Regions from separate parts of the Homo sapiens genome. Here region 2 is linked to region 1. The links come from fine-mapping of genetic effects on gene expression. A gene starts in region 1. The other region holds a variant in brackets. All regions are shown on one strand. Distances are between the middles of the regions.

Region 1 (9,631 bases):
CACCCTCCCCTGGTTTTCCCACTTTTCTAGCCTTTGTCCTCTTGTACCACCAGGTTGAAACACCCTCTTCTTTCATTTTACACCTTTCTGTACTCTTAGACGAAAGAAAAGGTTGTTAGAGGCTCATCTCCAACCTCATTGCTTGGCAAAAGGAGTTAGAGTCTGCAGAGAAGCCGCAGTGCGGCAGGGAGTCTAGGATCCCAAATAACAGATCTGGGAGAATCCTGCCTCAGTACTTGGATGCGCCTCCTGCCCATGAGCCTGGTGAGCACAGATCTGTTGGCAGTAACCGGCTGTGGGTAATCACCCCCAACTGCTTCTTGGGCAGAGATGGTTGGAGGGTTGTGAGTTAGGGAGACAGAATGAAGGCCTTTTTTCGAAAACCAGCAACAGAGACATAGGCCATTAGATGCAGGATGGCTGCTAAGACAGGTAAGAGAAGACTTTAGTCACTCCTGAACTCTCATAACCAGTTCACACTGCTCCTGCTCATCCATGCATACCAGACCTGAATGAAATACCACATGCAGGTCCAAGGACACTGCGGAGACAGGCACCCTTTCTGCAAGAGGGAACTGCAGACAGAAACACACAAAGAGATGCTTTCCCACAGAGTTTACTCGTGTTAGCAGACATGCCCACATGGATGCTGTCTCACATACAGCAGACACCATCTCTTACACACTTCCTGATGGTCCAAGCCAGATGACAAGGGACTAGGGAGTGGTACGGAGGTCGCTTGAAGGTGAGTAAGGAAAGATTCAAGTAGGCAGGTGACCCTGCTCACCCCACCTTGAACCCATTGACGTGAGATCCAAAGAATGATGCTTGAATGGAAAAAACCATCACTAATCTCCTCCCTCCTGGCTATTTTGGGGGAGCAGCCTCTTGGTTTCCTGGCAAAAAGAGAAGCCATCTCCAGCTCTGTGGGAATGAATGGGGAGGGCGGCTGGGGTGAGAATTGCCTCCCGGGCAGGCTTGAGTGGAAATAACTGAGTTGTTTCCATTACTTCCATTTCCTTGCCACCACCACCCGCCTGACCTCCGCAGTGTTAAAAGAGATAAATTCTTGCAGAAAACAGGGAATCCCTTAAATATTTTTTCTTATTACAAAGTAGAAAATATAGAAAAATACAAAACCCCAAAAAGGCTAATAATTCCACCATCCAGTGATAATCACTTTTTTTTTTTTGAGATGGAGTCTCACTCTTGTTGCCCAGACGGGAGGGCAATGGCACGATCTCAGCTCACCTACAACCTCCACCTCCTGGGTTCAAGTGATTCTCCTGTCTCAGCCTCCCGAGTAGCTGGAATTACAGGCATGTGCCACCACACCCAGCTAATTTTGTATTTTTAATAGAGAAAGGGTTTCTTTCTGTTGGTCAGGAAGGTCTCGAACTCCCTACCTCAGGTGATCTGCCCGCCTCGGCCTCCCAAAGTGCTGGGATTACCGGTGTGAGCCACTGCGCCTGGCCACAGTTAGTTTTAAGGTATGGTATTTGAATCCTTTTCTTTCTTTCTATTTTTTTTTTTTTGAGATGGAGTCTCTCATACTGTTGCCTGGGCTGGAGTGCAAAGGCGCAATTTCAGCTCACTGCAACCTCCACCTCCCGGGTTCAAGTGATTCTCCTGCCTCAGCCTTCTGAGTAGCTGGGATTGCATGTGCCTGCCACCAGGCCCAGCTAATTTTTTTTTGTAGAGACGGAGTTTCACTATGTTGGCCAGGCTGGTCTCGAACTCCTGACCTCGTGAGGCGCCCGCCTCGGCCTCCCAAAGTGCTGGGATTACAGGCATGAGCCACCGCATCCGGCCCTGAATCCTTTTCGTAGATGGCTGTGGCCACGTAGGGTGGGAGTGTAATTTTTAAAAATGGAAATCTAGGTATTATGGTTCCTCCTCCTCTTTATTATGTTAGAATAAGAGGTCAGGCTGCTTTGGCGTGAAGGGTTCTGGGACTTGACGGTGTAGTTTGGTGCCCCCAGCCCAGTTCTCCCGAGTGCCTGGAGGCATTACTGACCATTCATCAGTGGCAGGGAAGCTGCTCTCTGAAGGCGAGAGTTTGCAGATGTCCTCACTTGCAGAAAGCTGAGAGAGGCATGAAAAGAAAGGAGAGAAAAGGAAAAATAGAATGGTGATGTCGAATATCACAAGAGGAAGAAACAGTCTGGAGAGAAGGCAAGGAGAGAACAGGAGAGACTCCAAATCTCTGGTCTACCAGCTGGGACTGCCGGGGGACACCATGGTCCTCACCCAGGTTACTTGTCCATGCCCTTCCCACTGGAGAGGACGAGGTAGGCAGAGAAGGGCAAGTGAGAGGGCGAAGGCCCAGGGATGGCGGGTGGGGGGGCCTGAGCATTGGGCCTCCCCTTTCTCTTCCCCAGACCCCTGGACATGCCCTTGGCGGCAAGTCCCTGCACACCTGCTCTGTGCAGCTCAGACTGGGCCAGCCTCCTCCCCTGCCGGCCCCCCATGTCCCAACCCCCCCGCCCCAGGACCAGCTTTATGGGTTGTAGTTTCCTTGGCAGGTGCTCCTTTCCTGACCTGCCTCGCTTATCAAGGCATCTACAACCCCCACCTCACCCTTATCGCTCCCTCCATCTCCTTAGACTGGAAGTCACTCCACAAGGGCGTCACCCCCAGCGAGGCAGAAAAATGTCCCACAAGTTGAGCCCTCCCCACTCCCAGTGAGAACATAATTCCACTGTATCTTTTTTTTTTTTTACTTAACTTTTCCTTTTGGCTTTTAATAAGAAAAAGATCCAAATTTTCCCCCTTTTGAAACATCAATGAACACTAGCTCCTCTTAGTTTCCTTATTTATTTTCCTTTCAATTCTTGTCCTTCTCTAAAGGTTATTTTGTCCATCCCTCAATCTTGGGAGCAGATCTCTCTTTCTTACAACAAAAGAAGGGGGCAGTCCCCACTCCTCAAGACCCCCAGAGGGAGAGTCCCAGCGTATCCTCACGCTGGTCTCTCACACCTTTACAGCCAAAAGATTCCCAAGAAGCAACAAGGTCTGGAGAGTGGTTTGGAGCTGAGATCCCAAGTTCATGGCCAGTTACAGTCTCGCCACTAGCCATGGGACTTGGGGCCAGCACACCCAAGAATTCTCACAGACGGAATTCTTCCTTGTTCTCATTTACCTGATAGGTCTATTGAGTGAATGCAATTCAATAATATTGATGTACCTCTTTGAAAACAATGAGAACAGAATTGAACAATGAGAACACTTGGACACAGGAAGGGGAACATCACACACCAGGACCTGTCGTGGGGTTGGGGGAGGGGGGAGGGATACATTAGGAGATATACCTAATGTAAATGACAGTTAATGGGTGCAGCACACCAACATGGCACATGTATACATATGTAACAAACCTGCATATTGTGCACATGTACCCTAGAACTTAAAGTATAATAATAAAAAAAATGAGAACATAAATACAAGCTATCATATACAGTAGTCACCTTTTATCCTCAGGGGATACATTCCAAGACGCCCCAGTGGATGCCAGGAACCTTAGATAGCACCAAACCCTGTATATACTATCTTTTTTCCTACACGTACATACATACATACATACATACATACATACATACATACATACATACATATGATGAAGTTTAATTTATACATTAGGCACAGTGAAGAGTTTAGGCCGGGCATAGTGACTCACGCCTGTAATCCCAGCACTTCAGGAGGCCGAGGCAAGCAGATCACCTGAGGTCAGGAGTTCGAGACTAGCCTGGCCAACATGGTAAAACCCTGTCTCTACTAAAAATACAAAAATTAGCCAGGCGTGGTGGTGGGCACCTGTAATCCCAGCTACTAGGGAGGCTGCGGCAGGAGAATAACTTGAACCTGGAAGGTGGATGTTGCAGTGAGCCAAGATCACACCATTGCTCTCCAGCCTGGGCAACGAAAGTGAAACTCTGTCTCAAAAAAAAAAAAAAAAGAGTTTAACAACAATAAAATGAAAATTATAATAATATAAAGTTATGTGAATGTTCTCTTTCTCTCTGTCTCTCAAAATATGTTATAGTACTGTACTCACCTATTTTCCAACTGTGGCTGACCTTAGGTAACTGAACCATCAGAGAGTGAAACTGTGGATAAGGGAAACTACTTAATATATAAAATATAATATAAAATATATAAAATAGTGCAACATTACTTATTCCTCCTGGTGTTTCATTCCTGGAAAGAGTCCCAAACATGGAATCACGATTTATTTGTCGTCTACCTTTGCTCAGTTTCTGCTGTTCAACCTCCATAATAACTCGAGGCCCCTGGGGGCTCCTCTGACCTGCGTCCCCAGGTACCAGAGCCTGCTCGGCGACGCTCCAGGAAGCTGGCCGGTCACGGTCATGAGGACTTCTCACAGAGAGGGATTGGCCTGGGAAGTGGGGGTCAGAAACCCTCCTTTGAGGTACAGGGTTGAGGACAGAGATGACCACAAGACACATAAATGGGAAGCTCTGAGAAGCAGCCCGGGGGTCTCTTGAGCCCTCTTGTGGAAGGAGGATCGGCAGTGATTGAGTACTTGTGACACATGCTTTACAGATGCTCCCGTGAGACGGCATAGCCGTTACCCCAATTTCACAGGTTAGGAACTGAGGCTCAGAAAGCTCACCTAACTGTAAGGGATAAGAGTCAGGATTTGAACCAGGCTCTGCCTGACTCTTGAGCTGGAAGTCTTTATTTCCTCCTCTCCCTCATGCAACTAACTGTGCACCTTGTTTGTGGACCCACCTTCCATCCCTTTTCTTTTTCCAAATTCCTCTGCCCCACCTCTTAGCTTCTCGGGTCTCAGCCATCCCAGCCCACAGTTAGGAACCTTCCTTCCCCTCCTCCTTTTCTTCCCCAGGGTGGTTCTGTGGCTGTGGGGCTCAGCTCTGCAAAGAGCTCCTCCCCCTCCAGGAAAAGCACTTCTCCCCAGGCAGGGCGGTCAGTCCCCTCAGCGCACCTGCATGCACACACACCACCTCACAACCACACACTGCATGCACACACATACACCACAGCCACACACTGTGCATACACGCACACCCCACAACCCACATACTGCATGCACACACACACACCTACAAGCTGCATGCTGCATACACAAGTCATACAGGAGATAAACTCAGAGTCCCAGCCCCAAATAGACCCCATCTCTTGCTCAGTTGCTGTCATCCTAGACCTGTTTCTTTCGCCACATTTCTATAATCTGCCAGTGTCTGCAAGGAGAAGACATGGGGGGTTTTCTACCTAAGGCAGAAGGGCCCGGGAGCCAACTCCAGAAACTTCTGCCCTCCTTTCTGGTCAGAGAACAAGACTGGGACCAGCACCTGGACAAGCTTCATATGCTGCAGCAGAAGAGGTAGGCTTCCTAGAACGATCCGTGGCCCTACCGCCGTGATCCTCAGACCCTCTGACCCACCTGGGCCTGCTTTCCGAATACAGCACCCTAGAAGTGTATTGTCAGTGCCAGTCACTCAGACATACCCTTTCCTTCCAGCCCACCTAATTACAGAATCCCAGCTGGCCCCTTTTAGTGGCGGTGGAGGATGTGGCTTTGGGCCACACAGGAAAATCTTGAGGGTAGACCTAAGGACAGAGGCAGAATGACAGCCAAGGGGGAGTGAAAGGACCAAAAAGGACCAGAGGGAAGAAGCCAGGTTGTGTGGGATGGGGAGGGAAGGCAGAAGCAGGCTGCTGAAGAAGGGATGCACTCCTGTGGGTGGTGGAAGCACGATAAGGAAACGCCATTCATTTGAATGAAAGTGGACTGTGTGGGAAAGGGGAGGAGCGCTTTGTTTGGTGTAACACTGGGTGCTGACCAGTGGAGGAGGGCAGCTCAGGTGACACTGGAGGGCTCTGAGTTCAGTCCATCTGCCTTTTATTGAGTCTACTGTGTGCAGAGGGGTGTTAGATCCCAATGACATAAAGATTGAATGAGACTTGTGCCTGCTCCTGGAGAGCTCTTAGTTCGGGCAGGGCTAGCACACCTGCAGGTAAATCATTTCATGGCTTAGCCCTGAGGTCCAGTCCCAGGAAGAGCAGCTGGGGCAGGGACGAATCCTGTGGGCTGCTTCTTCCTCCAAGTGTTTTGGGGCTTGCCTCCCACCCAACAGCTGCCTGAGGGGTGAGGTTGTTGAGCAGACATTAGCAGTCACAAAGGGCTCCCCTGTACTCCAGAAGATTCCTGTGCTTTGTTCAATGCCCTGCTGTCCTCATCTTCAAGTTCTTAATAATTTTGAACAAGGGGTCCTGCATTTGCAGTTTACACTGGGCCTGGTCCCAAGTACCTCTGAGCCCTCATACTGTCAAGCCCTCTGCTTCCTCATCTCCCCACCCAATACCTCCAGTGGAATCTCACCTTCCTGCTTTAGAGTGGGACCCCTGGGTCTCTGAGAAAGTGAGCTTCCAGCCCCAACTTGGACCCTCTGCAGAGGGGCAGTGGGGATAGAGGGCCAGGGAGGCAAGGACTTTGTTTGTGCAGTGGCCTCAGGATGGGGGTGAATTTGCAATCTCAGCCCTGACCACTCTAGGCTGGTCAGGGACACCAGGCTCCCTGGGACTGATTCCCTGGGTGAGACGGGGCAGGGAACTGACTCCTCACAAAGGCCCCTCCTAGGAGCACTGCCTTAACAGGTAAAACCAGGCCCCACCTTTAGATTAAAAGCTTCTTCTTTAAATGAAAACACTTTGGCTGGGCGTGGTGGCTCACACCTGTAATCCCAGCACTTTGGGAGGCCGAGATGGGTGGATCACCTGAGGTCAGGAGTTCGAGAGCAGCCTGGCCAACATGCTGAAACCCCGTCTCTACCAAAAATAAAAAAACTAGTCAGGCATGGTGGTGGGCACCTGTAGTCCCAGCTACTCGGGAGGCTGAGGCAGGAGAATCACTTGAACCCAGGAGGCGGAAGTTGCAGTGAGCCGAGATCGCACCACTGCACTCCAGTCTGGGCAATAGAGTGAGACTTCGTCTCAAAAAAAATAAATAAATAAAATAAAAACACTTTTTCGCCCTGGCTCCTGGGGCTATTGGAAGAGAGGGATTTGGAGGTGGGGACCTCAGAGGAGCCACTCATCGGCCTGTCCTTTCTGTTCTTCCCCCTACACCATGTGCTTGCCTTTGGGGCCAATACACATATGTCTAGTTGGAGAGGCTCCAGCTTTATCTCTTTCTGGGTTCAAATCTGGGTATGGTAGAAGCAAAGATTAACAGAGGTCCTGTAGAATGAGTATCTCAACCTGTTTTGCCTTGAGACACCCACATAAACAAGCTGTTTAGACCTTTGCATCTAAGGGTATAATGCAGAAGAAAGAGGCACCCTGTAACTCACCCCACAACTCTCCACCCCCTGCAGGGACCTGTATCTAAATAACCTGAGGATGCTGGGCGCAATGTAATCCCAGCACTTTGGGAGGCCAAGGCAGGCGGATTGCCTGAGCTCAGGAGTTCGAGATCAGCCTGGCCAACATGGCAAAACCCCATCTCTACTAAAAATACAAAAAATTAGCTGGGCGTGGTGGTGCGTGCCTGTAATCCCAGCTACTCGGGAGACTGAGGCACAAGAATTGCTTGAACCTGGGAGGCAGAGGCTGCGGTAAGCTGAGATTGTACCACTGCACTCCAGCCTAGGCAACAGAGCAAGACTCTGTCTCAAAAAAAAAAAAAAAAAAAAAAATAGCCTGAGGGAGTAGTCAGAACTTTAGTGCCTCACAAATTTCACAAATTTCAAAATGCCTAGGAAAGATCTAGCAGTCGATCCATTCCTCCTCCCTCTGTGTTTTGGTCTCCCAAACTCCCCTTGGTTAAAGACAGTAGATTCAGCAGGCCCAGGAGCAGGGGGACCGCAGATGGAAGTGCCCTCTGTCCCGCTCTCCAACTATCCAGGATCTGAGACAGTTACTCAGGTTAGATGAATTCAGCCAAGCCTAGGGTCCTCTTCTTAGAGACTCTCAGACCACTCTTTCCAGACTACAGGTTCTCTTCCTATTAACTCTTCCCCTCCAGCAGAGCTTCAAGGGCCATCCTCACAGGAGAATCACCATGATGTGAATTGCAAGGAAGGCCCTGGGGCTGACCCTTGCCCAAGTCCACCCTCGGTCATTCGAGTCCAGTAGGCACTTCTTTCCAATTTGTCACTGCACGCTGTGTGAGTCACGTTGGTCTTAAAGAATGTCTTAGATCCCCTTTGCTCTTGGCCTCATTCTGCTATGACTGTCTCTTCCAAACTCACGTTCACCTTTCCCCAGGATTCTAGAGTCTCCACTGCTTCGAGCATCCAAGGAAAATGACCTGTCTGTTCTTAGGCAACTTCTACTGGACTGCACCTGTGACGTTCGACAAAGAGGTGGGATCTGGATTTAATGGGATGGAGGTGGGGGCAGAAGAACCTACTCCTCCTCCCCAAGACTTCGAGTTTGTGAAATAGGGCCTTGGAGGGTGTCTCTGGAGCCTGAGGCCCCTTCCTCAAGGGAATCTGAAAAGTGTCTAACATCTCTGTCTTACTCCAATCCAGGAGCCCTGGGGGAGACGGCGCTGCACATAGCAGCCCTCTATGACAACTTGGAGGCGGCCTTGGTGCTGATGGAGGCTGCCCCAGAGCTGGTCTTTGAGCCCACCACATGTGAGGCTTTTGCAGGTAAGGAGCCTACATGGTAATTCAAGGTGGAAACTTTGAGATGGAGGGTGTGCTGTTGTCTCTTAAAATTGGCCTCTGAAGGATGGGTTGGGGTGGGGTGATGGAGGGTCAGGAGGATGGGCTCCGTTGAGTTGGGAGAAATGCAAAGGTCCTGGTCTTGGCTTTTACCAATCTGTGGCTTCCTTCAGCATTTCCTTTCAAACCTCCCATAGTCCCTGTAGGACCTATCTCAATTTCTTTCTCTCATAGCAACATGAGAATGATTATATTCATAGCAATCCCCTGCTGGCTCCCAATAACTGAAGGGTAGGTCAATGAGCAGGGCAGCCTGAGGGATGAATTGCTCTTAGTCCCAGGCCACCCTGCCAAGCCCAGGGCAGAAGTCTAGCAAAGATCTATCAGGAACCTCCTGAGAGGGATGGTGGGGGATGCTGTGTCCCTGAGAGAACTGGGGACAGAGGGAGACCCTGATGATGGCTGTCTCTGGGCCAGGTCAGACTGCACTGCACATCGCTGTTGTGAACCAGAATGTGAACCTGGTGCGTGCCCTGCTCACCCGCAGGGCCAGTGTCTCTGCCAGAGCCACAGGCACTGCCTTCCGCCATAGTCCCCGCAACCTCATCTACTTTGGTGAGAGCAGGGTTGGGCTTGAAGGATGGTTGGCTGGAGAGGCGGGCAAGGCAGAGGGAGGCCAGGGCATGAGGGTCCTGCCTTCAGCTCCATCTGTTGGGCAGTTGAGAGGGGCAGCCCTTCTAGGGCTTAATTAAGCCAGAGGCCCATTCCCCTGATGGTTCCTTCCTCTGGTTCTGCTGGACGAGTGTCCCTCAGCCTAGAACTGAGATATGGGGGATGAGGAGGAGGCCCTTATTTGGGGGAGACTGCCCACCCCATCCTGCCATCCTGCGTTCTCCTGCCATGGATCTCTCTGTGTCCACAGGGGAGCACCCTTTGTCCTTTGCTGCCTGTGTGAACAGCGAGGAGATCGTGCGGCT
Region 2 (9,631 bases), 27 kb after region 1:
CTACTTAACATAATAATCATTTATTGGTCAGAATGTCATTCAATATCTTCTCTAATGCTGATTAGTACCTTATTATCTTGCAAATTCAGGTAGAGGTTGGGAGGAAGGGAGTTTTCCCATATTTTTAAAGATTTTGTTATTAGACATTTATGTCGCATTGAGCTAAAACCTATCTTCTTAAAATTTCATTCTTTGGCGCCAGTCTTTCCCTCTCATATATCACAGAACACATTCTTCCATATAAGCACCATTCAAATATTTGAATATAGCCATCATTTTTCCCTTAGACTTTTCATTCATTTAATGATGATCATTTAGACCCTGCTATGTGTTGACAAATGCCTAGGAGCTAGGGACATGAGCATAAACACAACAGACACCATATGTGCCCTCATGGAGCTGACGGTTTAGTTGGAAAGACGGGCATGAAGTGAATGACTTCACAAAAAGCTGTAAAATTACAGCAGCAAAAGTGCTATAGAGAATGTAAGGTGCTAAGAGGAGGATACAACAGAGGAATCGGACTGGGAAGTGAAGACATGCTTTCCTGAGGGAGCAACATTTAAGATGAGAACCCAAAGGTGAGCAAGAACTAGGTAGTTAAAAGGAAGGAGGGAAAAGGATGAAGGTCAAGGTTAGTAGCAATTAGGACTCTTGGCTACAGGGACAGAAAACCAAACTCAAACAGACTTGCAGATTTTTAAACAGGGGGAAGAGGATGTGTTAGTCCTCATAAATGGGAAGTTTAGAGAATTAAACTAACTTTAGAGGTATCTGGCCAGAATGCAGATCCACATCTTATACATTACATCCATTCCTCTGTTCGGCTCTCTTTTGACCTCTCTTCTAAGGCAAGCTCTCCCATCGTGTTTGTGAGATCATTTCTAGAAGCTCCAAACTCCAAAAAGAATGAGGATGTGCAATGCAACACGCAGCTCCGAGGGCCCCACTCACGTTGTATTCTGTGAGGCTCCTGGTGCCAGGCAAAACTGCAGGCTTTAAAAGAACATCTTTCCCCCTGCCAATTCCTTCCATGTTCCATCTCATGGGAACACATTCGGGTCATAGGCACATCGTTGAATCTAAGGAAAGACCAAGGACTAGATAGTGGAGGTGTTGGTGATGGTGGTGGAGGGGAGGTTTGGGGGAAAATAGATTAATTAAGCACAACTGTGTGAAGCCCAGTCCACTCAAACCAATGCACTAAAAGTGATGAGGGAGCAATTCCCTAAATGAAAAATGGGTGCTGTTACCCGAGGAAGGACGGGGCTGCATGATGGCTCAGGAGGAACAATAAACATTTCTTTCAAGGCAAAGAAGAACAGCTATCCAGGGTAAGAGCACAGAATGACTGGAAGTCCTGAGCTAGGAGGGAACTTGGTGCAATTAAGAAACTGAAAGAAGTGTGGAGTAATGAGGAAGATAGGGAGTAGAAAAACATGAGGTGAAGAATTTGCTATTTTGAAGATTGCACTCCTTCAATTAGGAAGCCTTCCTGGTTCTGATCTATTCTGATTGCACCCTTTTGTCCATGCTCTAATAGATCATGGTTTCTTTGAAACTAGAATAGTCCCCAGTATGATTAGGGCAATGCGGTACAAAGCGGGACTATGCCTTTCCTTACTTGGACATAATGCTAAGGGTACCTAAAGCTGAGTCAGGTCTTTTAGCAAATATACAAATGGCCCTTATTAAGCTTGTGATCAGCTAGCACTCCCACACCTTTGTTCTATGACTCACTTATCTAAGCTTCCTAAATGTAAATATAGGACCTTAGATTTGGTTTACTTAAATTTCTTGTTAATGATTTTACACCAGCATTCCAATCTAGCGAGATAATTTTATATTGCTTCTGTTGCCCCACATATTACATATCCCTCCCAGTTTTGTGTCACAGGCATATTTGATAAGCTTGTTTCCCATGTTTCATCTAAGTAATTAATGAGGGCTGAGCAAAGGACAGAACGTGTGGTGGACTTGCTACCAGAAATTTCCCTGCCAACTTGCAGTCATTAATCAACCCTTTTCCTTCCTAAGATGTGGATATTTAATTTGCTGAAAATTCCCTGAACAGTAACAGTATCAATTCATCCCCAAGATCGTAGAGATTCTCTTTAATCATTTTATTTAAATCGAGATAATTGGTCTGTGGCTTTTATATGAAAAAGAAGTTGAGATTAGTTTGGAGTGACTCATTCTCCATGAGTGAATAGTAATGTAAGGGCAACTATTTTATTCAAAACACTCACAAAAAATCCTCTCTCATTTCTTGATGAGTGAAGCTGGTTGCATGGTGCCTGGCACAGGCTGTGGGGTGAATAGGTGGCTGTTCTCACCACTGACCTCTAGTGTCCTATCTCACAGATTGCCTTTGGTTCCCTTTATCAGTGGCCTCAGTGCCTCTTTGAACCTCATGGCTCTTTCAGAGTTCTTCCTGTATCTCCTGCCTCCTTCCAGGTCGTGGCCACCACAGTGATGCTGGAGCGGAAGCTGCCTCGCTGCCTGTGGCCTCGCTCCGGGATCTGTGGGTGCGAATTCGGGCTGGGGGACCGCTGGTTCCTGCGGTGAGTGATGGTGTGCACATGCAAAACTGCAGATGTGTATAAGGCCACGGAAGCAAGGGTGACCGACAGGCGTCCTGGAGCCTACATTAGCCTGTCTAGGGGAGGGGGCTGGAGCTGAAGTGGAGGGGTACGAAGAATGCTGTGTGTACCTCAGGGCAGCCACGTGTAAAAGGTTGTGTGCATGTGTCCATGCTCAGACGTCAGCATGGGTTACCAGACTTGCTGTAACCTTGTTCTGAGCTGACCTTCATCTCCAGTGTACTTTTGGCTTGGATCTAACTTCCTCCTTCATATTCTGCCCTCATCTCCCGGCGTGACTCTCCTCTCTCCTCAAATTTACTTCCTGAATTGCATCTCGTCATCCTTGTGACACGCTTATCTATTAGTTGGCTCTGTTTTCTCTTTCACATTCCTACGTATTAGTAACACACAAACACACACACACCTGTGTGCGTCCTACCACCCTGCAAGCCCTGATTGCTCAGCCTCCATTATCTCTATCCCAGGTTAGCCTGCCCTCCATCACCTCCCTTCACTTGATCCCAGATACTCTTCCTGTTTCAACTCTGCTGCCTTATTTCTGCTTCCCTCTTGACCCTGCTTTCTAAATGGTCACCTCTACTTCTCCCCTGCCCATGTCTCCCCACCTGGATTGAGTCCTTTCCCCTTTCCCCTTATCAGGGTTGAGAACCACAATGATCAGAATCCTCTGCGAGTGCTTCGCTATGTGGAAGTGTTCAAGAACTCAGACAAGGAGGATGACCAGGAGCATCCATCTGAGAAACAGCCCTCTGGGGCTGAGAGTGGGACTCTAGCCAGAGCCTCTTTGGCTCTTCCAACTTCCTCCCTGTCCCGGACCGCGTCCCAGAGCAGCAGTCACCGAGGCTGGGAGATCCTTCGTCAAAACACCCTGGGGCACTTGAATCTTGGACTGAACCTTAGTGAGGGGGATGGAGAGGAGGTCTACCATTTTTGATTAACATCGCTATCACTCTTGACCTTACTCCCGGTTGGCCTGGGGGCGGGGACAGAGACGGAGACCTCTGCCTATGCAAGTGTCTAACTTCTGTGCCTGTTAATCATGGGAGGGTGAGACAGAACAATCCCTAAAGGGTCATGCCTCACACTTCACATCAGAATTTCTGGCAATGGGCAATGGTCATCGATTGTCTCACGTATTTTCTGGGCTCTTGCAAGTCACCCATCTCAGGAAAAAGGAGGTTGGCAACTAAAGACATGAGGCAGGGATGCTAGATTAATGTCAGGACCATTTCTCTTCTGCCCCACGCAGCCCCTAGAAAGTAGTAAGCTGTGAGGCTTTTCTGGCTCCCCAGGGCTTACGTGGGAAGAGCCAGGCATGGCATAGAGGTTGTGGCCCTTCTTTTTTTCCCAGCCTCCTGTAGGTCTCTCTCTCCACTTAGCAAGCAAACACCAACTGCAATAAAAAAGTCTCCTTATTCTTGCCTTCTTTAATTTTTTACTGTGGCACAATACATGTCACATAAAATTTACCATATTATCCATTTTCAGATGTGCCATTCAGTGGCATTAAGTACATTCACATTGTTGTGTAACCATCACCATTATTCATTTATGGAACTTTTTCATCATTCGGAACTGAAACTCTAATCCCCATTGAACAATAACTCTCCAGCTATCTCTCTGCCCTGGTCCCTGATAACCAATATTCTGCTTTCTGTCTATGAATTTAACTATTCTAGGTATCTTATGTAAGTGGGATTCTGCAATCTTAGTCCAAAATTTGACACAGTTTGTTTATTTATTCATCTACCAATGGACATTTGAGTTTTTTCTACCTTTTGGCCGTTGTGAATAATGCTGCTATCAATATGGTATACAAATATCTGTTCTAGTTTCTATTTTCAGATACTTTGGGCATACACCTAAAAATGGAATTGCTAGACAATTCTTATGTTTAGTTTTATGAGGAACTGCCATACTGGTTTTCACAATAGCTTTCACCATTTTACATTCCCTTCTAATGGGTGTGAAGTGGCTTCACATTGTAGTTTTGATTTGCCTTTCCCTAATGACTAATGATACTGAGCACGTTTTTATACACCTATTTATTGGATGTTTATATACCTTCTTTGGAGAAATGTCTTTTCAGTTTATTTGTCCATTTTCGAATTAGGTTTTTGTTGTTGTTGAATTGCCTTATCTTTGCTTTTTGAGGCTCACAGTCTGAAGTGTTTGCATCCTGGTGTGTTTTTAAGAATGTATGGTAAATTAGGCCTATATTTGAATGGCCTAATCATTTCTTTTCCAGGACCCTCCTGCTCTGTCCCTAGCAGCTAATCATCCTTGTGCCTGGAGGCAACAGGCTCCTGCTTGTTCTCCTGACATAGCCATCCTCCATTCCCATCTCCCTTTGCCCCACACTGAGTTGTGAAAGGAACAGCAACAATAGAGGAAGGGTCATCCCTCTCCAGGAGGGAAATTAGGAATCATGTGTCCAGGGCACCCATTATAGGTGCTCATGGTCAGCCTCTCTTGTGTCTCCAGCACTATACTTCTAATCCCAGCCCCATCATCACCCTTAGCAAAAAGCCATGTCAGCTTTTCAAAGGACTGTGGTCTGGGATAACAAAGAAGTAAGTGGTATTTGTGAAACCACAGACAGTTAATTCAGATACACCAGCCCAGGGCTGAGTGCCCAGCAGTGAGGGAT[T/C]GCACAATGTGTATACACACGCCCGCACACACTGGGACACAGTGGTGGCAGGGTATGTAAAACTGCTCAGTCACCATCATTCTTCTTTATTCTCTTCATAGTAGAAGCACTTTAAAATTCTGCTTCTGTAGTCCTTTTTTTTTTTTCTTGAGACAGGGTCTTGCTCTGTTGCCCATGCTGAAGTACAGTGGTGTGATCACTGCTTACTGCAGCTTCGACCTCCTGGGCTCAAGTAATCTTCCCCCATCAGCCTCCCAAGTAGGTGGCACTACAGGTGTGCACCACCACACCCAGCTAATTTTTGTATTTTTTTTAGAGATGGGGTTTTGCCATGTTGCCCATGGCTAGTCTTGAACTCCTGGTCTCAAGCAATCCACCTGCCTCGACCTCCCACAGTGCTGGGATTACAGCATGAGCCACTGCACTAGCCCTGTAATCTTTTTAATACTTGCTTAACTTGTCTATAAACTTATATGTCTTTTGATTTGAGCCCTTGGCCTGCCCCCAGGTATTGTCCTTTGTCCTGGCTTGTGCACCTGGTATGTAATTAAAATTGCTTACTGCCTAGGTTTTTCACTAAAATAAGAATTACTAAGAGTTAACATTATAAATTAATGAATGTAATTAAAACTACTAGGTACATACAATGTGTATTAAACAGGTAGGCTGTGTTTTTTTTTGGAGAACAAATGTTAAAATAAGTCATGGGAGTGTGGTTCTTTTTTAAGAGAAAGTGTTTTTTTCTAGTTTAGAGGATTTTAAGGACTGTTTCAAGTTAACAGAAACGACAAAACTGAAGGTTTAAGCAAGTCGTAGAAGGTTTGTGGAAGATTGATCTTGTAAAAGGAATTTTGTGTGTGATCAAGTTTGGCTAAAATTTTAAGGGGATTATTTAGATATTATACAAATTGAACATTCATATAAATAGCACATTGATGCAGGGTCAGAATCTGAGCACCTGTGTGAGGCAGGATTTTCTTGGAATATTGATGTGTTCTTTAACACAAATTTGTAAAGTTTATAAAAGCCTCATGGAAATCTTACCTTACAATCAAACTAATTAAAATTTGGTAGATTTGCTTATAAGATTCTATTAAAGCTTTAGAATTAACAATACAGTAATACAAAAATAAAATTTGGTTTTCTCTTTTAAATAAGATTTTTGTATAATATTAAGAGATAGTAAAAGATTTTCATTTGCCCTTTGAATAAACTGCCAAAAAAATTAAAGAAGAAGGAGAGGAGAGACAGATTCAGTTGGCTTCACACTGTCTCTATTAGGTCCTATTTTTTAGAAAACTGAGGTCTTCTTTATCAAGGAGTAAAGATTTCTGCTTTTTTTTAAAATTGGTGAGTTATCACTTTAGCTAAATGATTATAATGACCTGTAATCTCATTTTGCGATATCAAGTGCTTTAAACTTTTAATGTTGGACTAACTTTCCAAGATTAAATTCTAAATGCAGTCTTTTAACCTCAAACTGACTTTTAAATGTCCAACAGAGGCATATTTGGCTTATTTGATATGTTAAAATCATACAGGAGGCATTGCCAAGTATAAAATGGTGTGTAACTTTCTTTGAAATATATTTATATAAATGTGCTATTGTTATGTGTTCCAAAATTGTATAATATTCTTATAATTTTAATATGTCTTGGTATATGTGATCAGTAATAATTATAATTATGGTAAATTATTGTGTGCCACAGAAATAACCAGATTTCCTTGTCAATTATATCTTTGACTGTGGATATCTTTTGTCATTCACAATTATTATTTTACTTTGTTCCTTTTCAAAAAGTTGCTTATAATCAGTTATAGGACTCTGATGGTGTATTAGTTCATTCCCATGCTGCTATGAAGAGATACTTGAGACTGGGTAAATTATAAAGAAAAGTTTAATTGATTCACAGTTCTGCATGACTGGGGAAGCCTCAGGAAACTTAGAATCACTGGAGAATCACCTCTTCACAGGGTGCCAGGAGAGAGAATAAGTGCCAAGCAAAGTGGGTAGCCCCATATAAAACCATCTGTTGCCCATGCTAGAGTACAGTGGGCAACTCACTGAATGAGTGAGTTCTCATTAGAACTCACTAGCATGAGAACAACATGGGGGGAACTGCCCCCCATGATTCAATTACCTTTCACTGGGTCCCTCCCACCACATGTGGGGATTATGGGATTACAATTCAAGATGAGATTTGGGTGGGGACACAAAGCCAAACTGTATCAGATGGATACTTTTAAATGCAGGTTTCTGACAGCTTTGGAGATTGTGCCATTAAAATAGAGGAAAAAAATCTTCCAGGACACTCCTGGAGATCTGATGTATTCATGAGGATTGTTGACCCAATATCAAATAGAACAGAGGTTAATTGCATGAACTGAGCTAATAGAAGACTAAAATAATTTTTTGTGTGATCTTTTTGTCTGAAACATTGGTGATTCTTTTCATTTTTTGGGTTGTTTACAGCTTTTAACAATTGAGTAAAATATGCTCTTGTGAGCAAAATTTAAAGCATATTTCTTTCTCTCTACCTGATTTCTCCAGAATTTGAAAACTATTTTTGAGTATTCTTAATTTATAACAATATAGTTATTTGTATGAGCTCAATAAGAATCTGCTTTCTTTTGTAACAGGACACAATTGGAGACTATTATTTTACTAAAGCTTTGACTAGAATGAAATATTTTAAGCTATAAACAAAACAACAAACTGTTTTAAGGAATTGCCATTGACTTATAGAGCCAATAAAAGATCCTTAAAAAAACTGGCCTTGTACCTTGCCTACACAATTCTTTTACAGGGTTCCCAACCTGTGATAAGTAAAGAACGTTACTTTCTGGCAGGCCCGGGAACCCCAAGTTATCTTGGGATTAAGAAGAGAGGCATTCGCCCAGTTCATACAGATATCTGCAGGCACAAATAAATTCTTGACTGGGCTTGGGGCCTTTAAAAAGTCTAAACTAAGATTCCTTAAATAAAAAAGTTTCCAGCAAAGTCAATTTTAAAAAAGCCTAAATAGAAAATAATTATTCTTGCTGCACTTTATACAAAGAATCAGGTGAAGTATAATACAACTAAAGCTTTTCTACAAATAAATTAGTCCTACTATGATTTGTCTTTGATAAAAATGGAGGACTGAGATAAAAATTATGTTTTTTTTTTTTTTTAAAAAAACATATAAAACACCTCTTCTTAGACCCCACCTTATCAATTGTTTCTCAGTTTCATTCTTTGTTAAAATGCATTTGGACTGAATCCTAAGTCCTTTCCTGGCTACAAGTCTCCAAACTACTGTTCATTTTTTTTTTCCTTTTTCTTTCATTTTTTCCCTTTTTTTTCTCATTTGGAATCTAGAAATTAAAACTAGAAATTTTAATTTAAAATTAAATTAAAATTAAAACTGTGCTTTTCTTAAAGTTCTGCCAAGTGAAACTTGAAACTTAAACTTTGGGAAAAGTAACAGCAAATTATTTATATATATAAACCACTTTTGTGCCTGCCTACTCATTCATGGACTTCAGAGCAATATAGCCTAAATCAGTTTTCCAGGATTACTTTCCCCTTTTGTTGTCATGATCTTTCCTCCTTTTCTACTGGTTTTCTTTCTCTCTTCTTTCCCCTATTTTTCTCTGTGGAACATGAAACTTCACAACCTGCTAAGAATGATCCTTTCTAAAATGAGGGACCTAACCCTCTAGAAATAAACTGTCCTAGTGACAAGGGATCAGACCAAACCTGAGATCAGACACTCACTTTCTTCTACAATGCTTTCCCTGAAAGATTTGGAAGAACAGGGTGGGAGGATGTGAAAGGAAAATAACATCTTGGGACCTCAAACTCACTATGTGAAAGGGAAAAGTTAAGTTTGGAAACTGAGTCAAACTTTTGGAAGTTGCCTTTCTTCCAAAAAGTTTGGAAACTGCCTGTCTTTTTGTTCCTAAACAGATAGCCTCAAGACAGAAGGCCACATTAGCTCCCCAGATGGCCTCCTTCACCCTGACATTATAAATTAACAGTTTATCTTCACGGGTACAGGAGAAGAGAAGAATAGAAATCGTCCCTCCTCCTACCCTGGGATGAAGGCATATTTGACTTCTTCCTCTAATTTACTTTGTCTTATGTAAAGTGCAGATTTACTGAGCATGACACAAATACATAAATGACTGTTCCTCTGTCCCCTGCTTCTCACATGCAACATGTGGATTCAGTGAGCACTAATCAAAGCCTCAAAAGAATGTAACCACTTGTCTACTCTCCGCCACTTTTCTTTAACTTTTCTCCTTCCCCTCCTGGCCACTTAACCCCTTTAAATATTGAAGCCTTCAAAACCCACTTTGGAAAAAGTGCAGGCCTCAGATCTTACTGTGG

What was found.
Region 2: its variant is fine-mapped to the expression of TRPV5 in monocytes (TOPMed, PIP above 0.99).

The regions. Positions count from the first base shown.
Region 1 is chr7:142,929,066-142,938,696 of GRCh38, reverse strand. It overlaps TRPV5 (transient receptor potential cation channel subfamily V member 5), which reads left to right and starts at 4,951. Exons shown (of 15, transcript NM_019841.7): 1 at 4,951-5,365; 2 at 8,251-8,348; 3 at 8,517-8,639; 4 at 9,132-9,269; 5 at 9,577-9,631. The coding sequence starts at 5,238. It overlaps LOC105375542 (a long non-coding RNA gene), which reads left to right and starts at 1,747. Exons shown (of 2, transcript XR_928065.1): 1 at 1,747-2,291; 2 at 2,851-2,970.
Region 2 is chr7:142,902,423-142,912,053 of GRCh38, reverse strand. TRPV5 (transient receptor potential cation channel subfamily V member 5) reads left to right here. Exons shown (of 15, transcript NM_019841.7): 14 at 2,458-2,564; 15 at 3,246-3,953. The coding sequence ends at 3,540. Among named protein-coding and RNA genes, the nearest start is that of TRPV6, 21 kb to the right of the region's middle. The variant T/C (reference allele first, on the strand shown) is at 5,257.